2 separate regions of the Homo sapiens genome follow, and region 2 is linked to region 1. Evidence: fine-mapped expression QTL. A gene starts in region 1. The other region holds a variant in brackets. All regions are shown on one strand. Distances are from middle to middle.

What was found.
Region 2: its variant is fine-mapped to the expression of ZG16B in whole blood (INTERVAL, PIP 0.96).

What each region holds. Positions count from the first base shown.
Region 1 is chr16:2,828,974-2,831,877 of GRCh38, forward strand. It overlaps ZG16B (zymogen granule protein 16B), which reads left to right and starts at 1,330. Exons shown (of 4, transcript NM_145252.3): 1 at 1,330-1,355; 2 at 1,442-1,520; 3 at 1,721-1,823; 4 at 2,823-2,904. The coding sequence starts at 1,469.
Region 2 is chr16:2,859,971-2,862,874 of GRCh38, forward strand. No RefSeq gene overlaps it. Among named protein-coding and RNA genes, the nearest start is that of PRSS22, 3.3 kb to the left of the region's middle. The variant G/A (reference allele first, on the strand shown) is at 1,387.

The DNA.
Region 1 (2,904 bases):
CCCTCCAGGGAGGCCCTCACAGCACCCTCAGGGGGAGGTTCTGTTGTTATCCGCAGAACAGAGGCCCAGAGAGGTGAAGCAAGAGCCCGCAGATCCCAGCCCCGCTACGTCAGGAAGCCCGGCTGGACCCACGTCTGGCTCCAGGGTCCTGTGTTGGTGATCACAGCCCTGTGGCTGTTCCCAGCGGTCACAGGCCCTGAGGAGCTTCAGTCCCTGGAACACACACAAGAGGTGTCCTGAGGACACGCATGGAACTGCGCTTGAGCTGCAATCTGTCCCCTAGTTCCCGCCTCGCTTGGGCATCTGACGGCCTTTATCTCTTCTCCCCTGATCCTTATCCGACACCCCAACTCTTCTGCAGACTCCAGTTCCTTCCCAGTGCCCTGGGTCCTTCAGGGTCCTTGGGATGAGACATCTCCGAACACGAGCTTTTCTCAGCTGGCGTCTGAGGGTGATGGCGTTCTGCCCACAGGCATCCGCCTGCACAGGCCTCCCTGACAAGAGGGGCTGAGGGGGAAAGGAGTGAGACAGAAAACCAGCAGGGCCCCGGGGACCGAGCCCTGGAGAAGCGCCAGTTCCCGCCCAGATGAGGGCCGACACCTCGGAAGGACCGGCCTGGGGGGTCGCCCTCCCCAGGCCCTCTGCCTCCCATCGTGGCATGGACTGCACCTTTGGTGTCCTTCCCTCCCATGGCCTCTGAGTCCCTGAACACTGGCTCATACCTGCTCCACCCAGATACAGCACAGAGGAGAGACCCGGGCAGCCTCTAAGGGCAGTGCCTTGAGGGCCAGTGCCTGGTGCACCTGCCGCACAGGGCACAGGACACAAAGGGCTGGGTGATCCATTCAGGCTCTCTCAGGGCCCGCGTCGAGCTCGGCCTGGGTCCCAGGAAGGCTGCCAGGCACCAGGTGCTGCCTGAGTCCGAAGGAGGCCCTGACTCCAGGTCGCCCACGGCAGGAGTGGGCCCCACGGAGCTTCTGTGGACCCTTGACCCGCCACCCTCAGGTGGAAGCCATCAGGCTGCGCTGGATAAGCCAGCCTCTCCCCACCTCTGCCATTCAAGTCGGTGCCAGTGCTGACTGGAGAGATCCCAGAGATAACTGTGAAATGCCTGTCACTGTTCTCAGCTTCGTTTATGTAGGCTGCAGAGCCAAGACAGCAAATACTGCACATCCGGGAGCCTCCCCAAGGCCGGCCCTGGGCCTTCCCCCAGGAAGAGCCCCACGGCCAGCTCCTTCCTGTTCCCCTGGCGGCCCCTCGCTTCTTCCTTCTGGATGGGGGCCCAGGGGGCCCAGGAGAGTATAAAGGCGATGTGGAGGGTGCCCGGCACAACCAGACGCCCAGTCACAGGCGAGGTAAGGTGCTTGGCTCCATGGGTGGGGCCCGGCAAGGTCACACTGGCCCTTGCTTTGGAGTCAGGAGGCCTCTCTTCTTCCCACAGAGCCCTGGGATGCACCGGCCAGAGGCCATGCTGCTGCTGCTCACGCTTGCCCTCCTGGGGGGCCCCACCTGGGCAGGGAGTAAGTCAGTGGGGTCTGCCCTCAATCTCCCCTGCCTCCCTCCAGGAGAGCCAGGGACTCACCCGGCCCTTGTCCCAGACTAACTCTGGTCACAGAACCATCCTGTCTGCCTGGAGGGGTGGGGTCCCCTGTTCTGGCAGAGGTCACCCCCATATCACCGCATGGGGATTTTCTTCCCTTTGGGTCTCTCTTTTCTTCAGAGATGTATGGCCCTGGAGGAGGCAAGTATTTCAGCACCACTGAAGACTACGACCATGAAATCACAGGGCTGCGGGTGTCTGTAGGTCTTCTCCTGGTGAAAAGGTGAGTAGGGCTATGGTCATGGGCCCAGCGCCATGTCCCCTCCCATCCCACAGTTTCAGGAACTCAGGGCAGGGGGTAAGCACCCGTGGCCACTTTTGCCACACATGCCTGGCTACTGTCGATGCTTCCTGGCTCCCGCTGATGCTTCCTGGCTGGAGCGGAGACGGTCAGACCGTCCTCCCTACCTTCTCCCTTCAACCCAAGCTCAACTCAACCAAAAATGGCCCCTCTGTCCCCATGCCTGATAGGAAAGTCAGGGGAAAGTCTGTCCGATTACTGTCAAAGAAGACAGGAGGTAAGGGTCAGAGTGGACCACTGACTGAATATGAGTCGCAGAAGTGTTAGAGGCAGAAGTCCAGGGCCATTTCCTTAATATCGAAGTGTCTCTGCTGGAGGTCTGGGATGGATTTTTGCCCTGCATTTAGAAGTTCTGGGGTCCTGGGAGAGGGGAGAGAAGCCCAATAGCAGAGGAGACAGAGTGTGGGCGGGGCGAGCCGGAGGGGTGCATCCTGGGAGAGCACCAGGGTGAGGGAGGGGTGAAGATGAGCCCCGTCAGGGAAGCGCTGGCGAGTGTGGGAAGTCACCTGCCCCTCGGCCTGTGAGCTGCTCTGCTTGGAGTGACTAAGGCTCGGGAGGTCCAGGCTCGGCCAGAGGCAGCTCATATGTGGGCCACAGTGACGGCAGCTGGTGCCTTCTGGGTCACGGAGACCTGGCGCTGCACGCAGCTCTCCTCACCAGGATCTCAGTGACTCCTCCCAAAAGTCACACCCACTTTGCAGACGGGGAAACTGAGTCCGGAGAGGCTGGGTAACGAGCTCAAGATCACAGGGCCCAAAAGTGGTAGAATCAGGGTTGGTGACCAGTGAGTCTGTGTCAGGGACCCAAAGTCTGATGGTGCTGGACTCTCTGCATCCCGGGAAGGAGGATGGGGGCGCTGAGGACCCGGGATGTGCTGGGCCATCCCAGATCTGGACGTCCAAAGCTTTGCCTCTCTCCCAGTGTCCAGGTGAAACTTGGAGACTCCTGGGACGTGAAACTGGGAGCCTTAGGTGGGAATACCCAGGAAGTCACCCTGCAGCCA
Region 2 (2,904 bases), 31 kb after region 1:
AGTCAAACAGCAGGGCCCTGGGGAGCCCCAGAGGATGCATTATTCTCTGTCCCAGGACTCAGAGGGGGTTTGGGGGAACTGCAGGAAAAGGCCACGCAGAGTGGCCAAGGAGGGGCAGTGTCTCTGAGCAGCAGCAGCACTGCAGCAGAAATTTCTGCTGGGCTCCCCCAACCCTACTCACTGTCCCCCGCTCAGCTCTGCACCCAGGGCGTCCAGGGCCCTCCTGCGCCCCACCCCACTGCCTTCTGGAATAAGGTGGGTGGCCTCTCCAGCTCACCCAGCAAACATATATTGAGTACCTGCTGTATGTCAGGCCCTGGTGGGCACCAGGACACATGTGATGAATAAGACGCAGGTCCTGTGCTCAGGAAGCACATGACCTCCTAGGGGTGGGAGGCAGATGACGGATGACAGGGAGGTGTCCGGGAGGTGGGCACAGAACCATGGGACCAGGCGGTGGCTTGGACCCTAGAGGGCCACTGTGAAGCTGGGTGCTGGGGAAACAGTGTGGGCAGGGGGGCTCCCTGTGGACCCCCAGGATCATATTCAGTGCCTGCTGCACCCTGGGGCTCAGCGAGTGTTTGTTGAATGTATAAATGAGTGTGGAAGAAGCAAGTCTGCAAGTGGCTGGGGACCGACCACTCCAGCCTCCCTCTCTGCCTCCCGCCCAGGTTTCCTCTCCATTCCAGCTTTTCTGCCTTTCTGAAGAGCCAGCTCACTGCCCTGGATACCCAAGGGTAGCCATGGGCCCTGCCCAAGATGCCGCTATCCCTGAGACAGGGTGGCCAGGAAGAGAGCCCCGAGGAGAAGGACCTGGTAGGAGCAGGGGGAAGCCCTGAGGAGCTGGGTGAAGATTTCCTGGCACAAGTCCTGGGGAAGGGCCCCAGACAGCAGTTCCTCAATTCCCAGGGTATAGAGGGTGGAGTCTCTGAAAGGCCACGGGGTGGAGACCCTGGCATGATTCAACATTCACTCAACAAAATATTTATTGAGCGCCTGCCAATGCTAGACCCACATGCTGGCCAGCATCCCTGCCTGTGCAAGCTCTGGATGAGCTGTGTGCCCCTGCCACCCACACCCCCACTCCCTGCCAGCCTGGCCTCAGGGCCTCTGATCCATGTGCACTGGAGTGGTGATGACTGACAGGGCCACTGGGGCATTTCCATGTTAACAGCAGCTGCCACTGGCAAAAGAAGTGACTCGCCAATGGTGGCATCTCAGATGTGGGCCCAGGAGTCTGGGGAGCTACTTTGAACAGGGCTATCCATTCATTGTCCCACCAAAGGCTATGGAGCCCACCCACCATGTGCTGGAGTAGTCAAGGGAAATAAGACACTCTCCTTGTCCTTGTTAACTCAATCAACAAGCATTTGCAGAGCACCGCCT[G/A]TATGCCGGCGCTGTCCGAAGTGCTGAAGATACAGCAATGAGCAAACCAAAAGCCATGGACATCGGATGAAACAGAGAATTGTAAACAATAAGTACATCATTTAGCTCTATGGAAAACAGGATAGAGATTTCTCAAAGAACTAAAACTAGAACTACCATTCAACCAGCAATCCCACCACTGGGCATCCACCCAAAGGAAAAGAAGTCATTTAATCAAAGAGACACCTGCACTCGTGTGTTCATCGCAGCAACACTGTTCACAACAGCAAAGCCATGAAATCAACCTAAGTGTCCATCAACAGATGATGGATAAAGAAAATGTGGTGAATATATACACAGTGGGATACTACGAAGCCATAAAAAAGAACACAAAACCATGTCTTTTGCAGCAATGTGGATGGAACTGGAGGCCATTATCTTAAGCGGAACAAGTCAAACACAGAAAGACAAAGATTGCATGTTCTTATTTATTTATTTACTGAGATGGAGTCTCACTGTGTCACCAGGCTGGAGTGCAGCGGTGCAATCTTGGCTCACTGCAGCCTCCACCTCCCGAGTTCAAGCAATTCTCCTGCCTCAGCCTCCCAAGCAATTCTCCTGCCTCAGCCTCCCACATAGCTGGAACTACAGGCACGTGCCACCACACCCAGCTAATTTTTGTATTTTTAGTAGAGGCAGGGTTTCAGCATGTTTGTCAGGATGGTCTCAATCTTTTTACCTCATGATCTGCCAGACTTGGCCTCCCAAAAGGCTGGGATTACAGGCATGAGCCAGTGTGCCCAGCCTTTTTTTTTTTTTTTTTTTTTTTTTGAGGCAGAGTCTTGCTCTGTTGCCCAGGCTGGAGTGCAGTGGCGCAATCTGGGCTCACTGCAACCTCTGCCTCCCGGGTTCAAGTGATTCTCCTGCCTCTGCCTCCTGAGTAGCTGCAATTACATGTGCACACCACCATGCCCAGCTATTTTTTATATTTTTAGTAGAGACGGGGTTTCACCATATTGGTCAGGCTCGTCTCGAACTCCTGACCTCAGGTGATCTACCTGCCTTAGCCTCTTAAGCATGTTCTCATGTATAAGTGGGAGCAAAGCAGCCGGACGCAGTGGCTCACGCCTGTAATCCCAGCACTTTGGGAGGCCAAGGCGGGCAGATCACGAGGTCAGGAGGAGCTAGAGACCATCCTGGCTAACATGGTGAAACCCTGTCTCTACTAAAAATACAAAAAATTAGCCGGGTGTGGTGGCGGGCGCCTGTAGTCCCAGCTACTTTGGAGGCTGAGGCAAAAGAATGGCGTGAACCTGGTAGGCGGAGCTTGCAGTGAGCTGAGATCGTGCCACTGCACTCCAGCCTGGGCGACAGAGCGAGACTCCATCTCAAAAAAAATAAAATAAAATAAGTGGGAGCAAAGCAATGTGCACCTGTGGCCACAGAGTGGAATAACAGACATTGGAGACTGGGAGGGTGGGAGGGAGGGAGGGGGCAAAGGAGAAGAAATTTGCTATTGGATCCAGTGTTCACGATTTG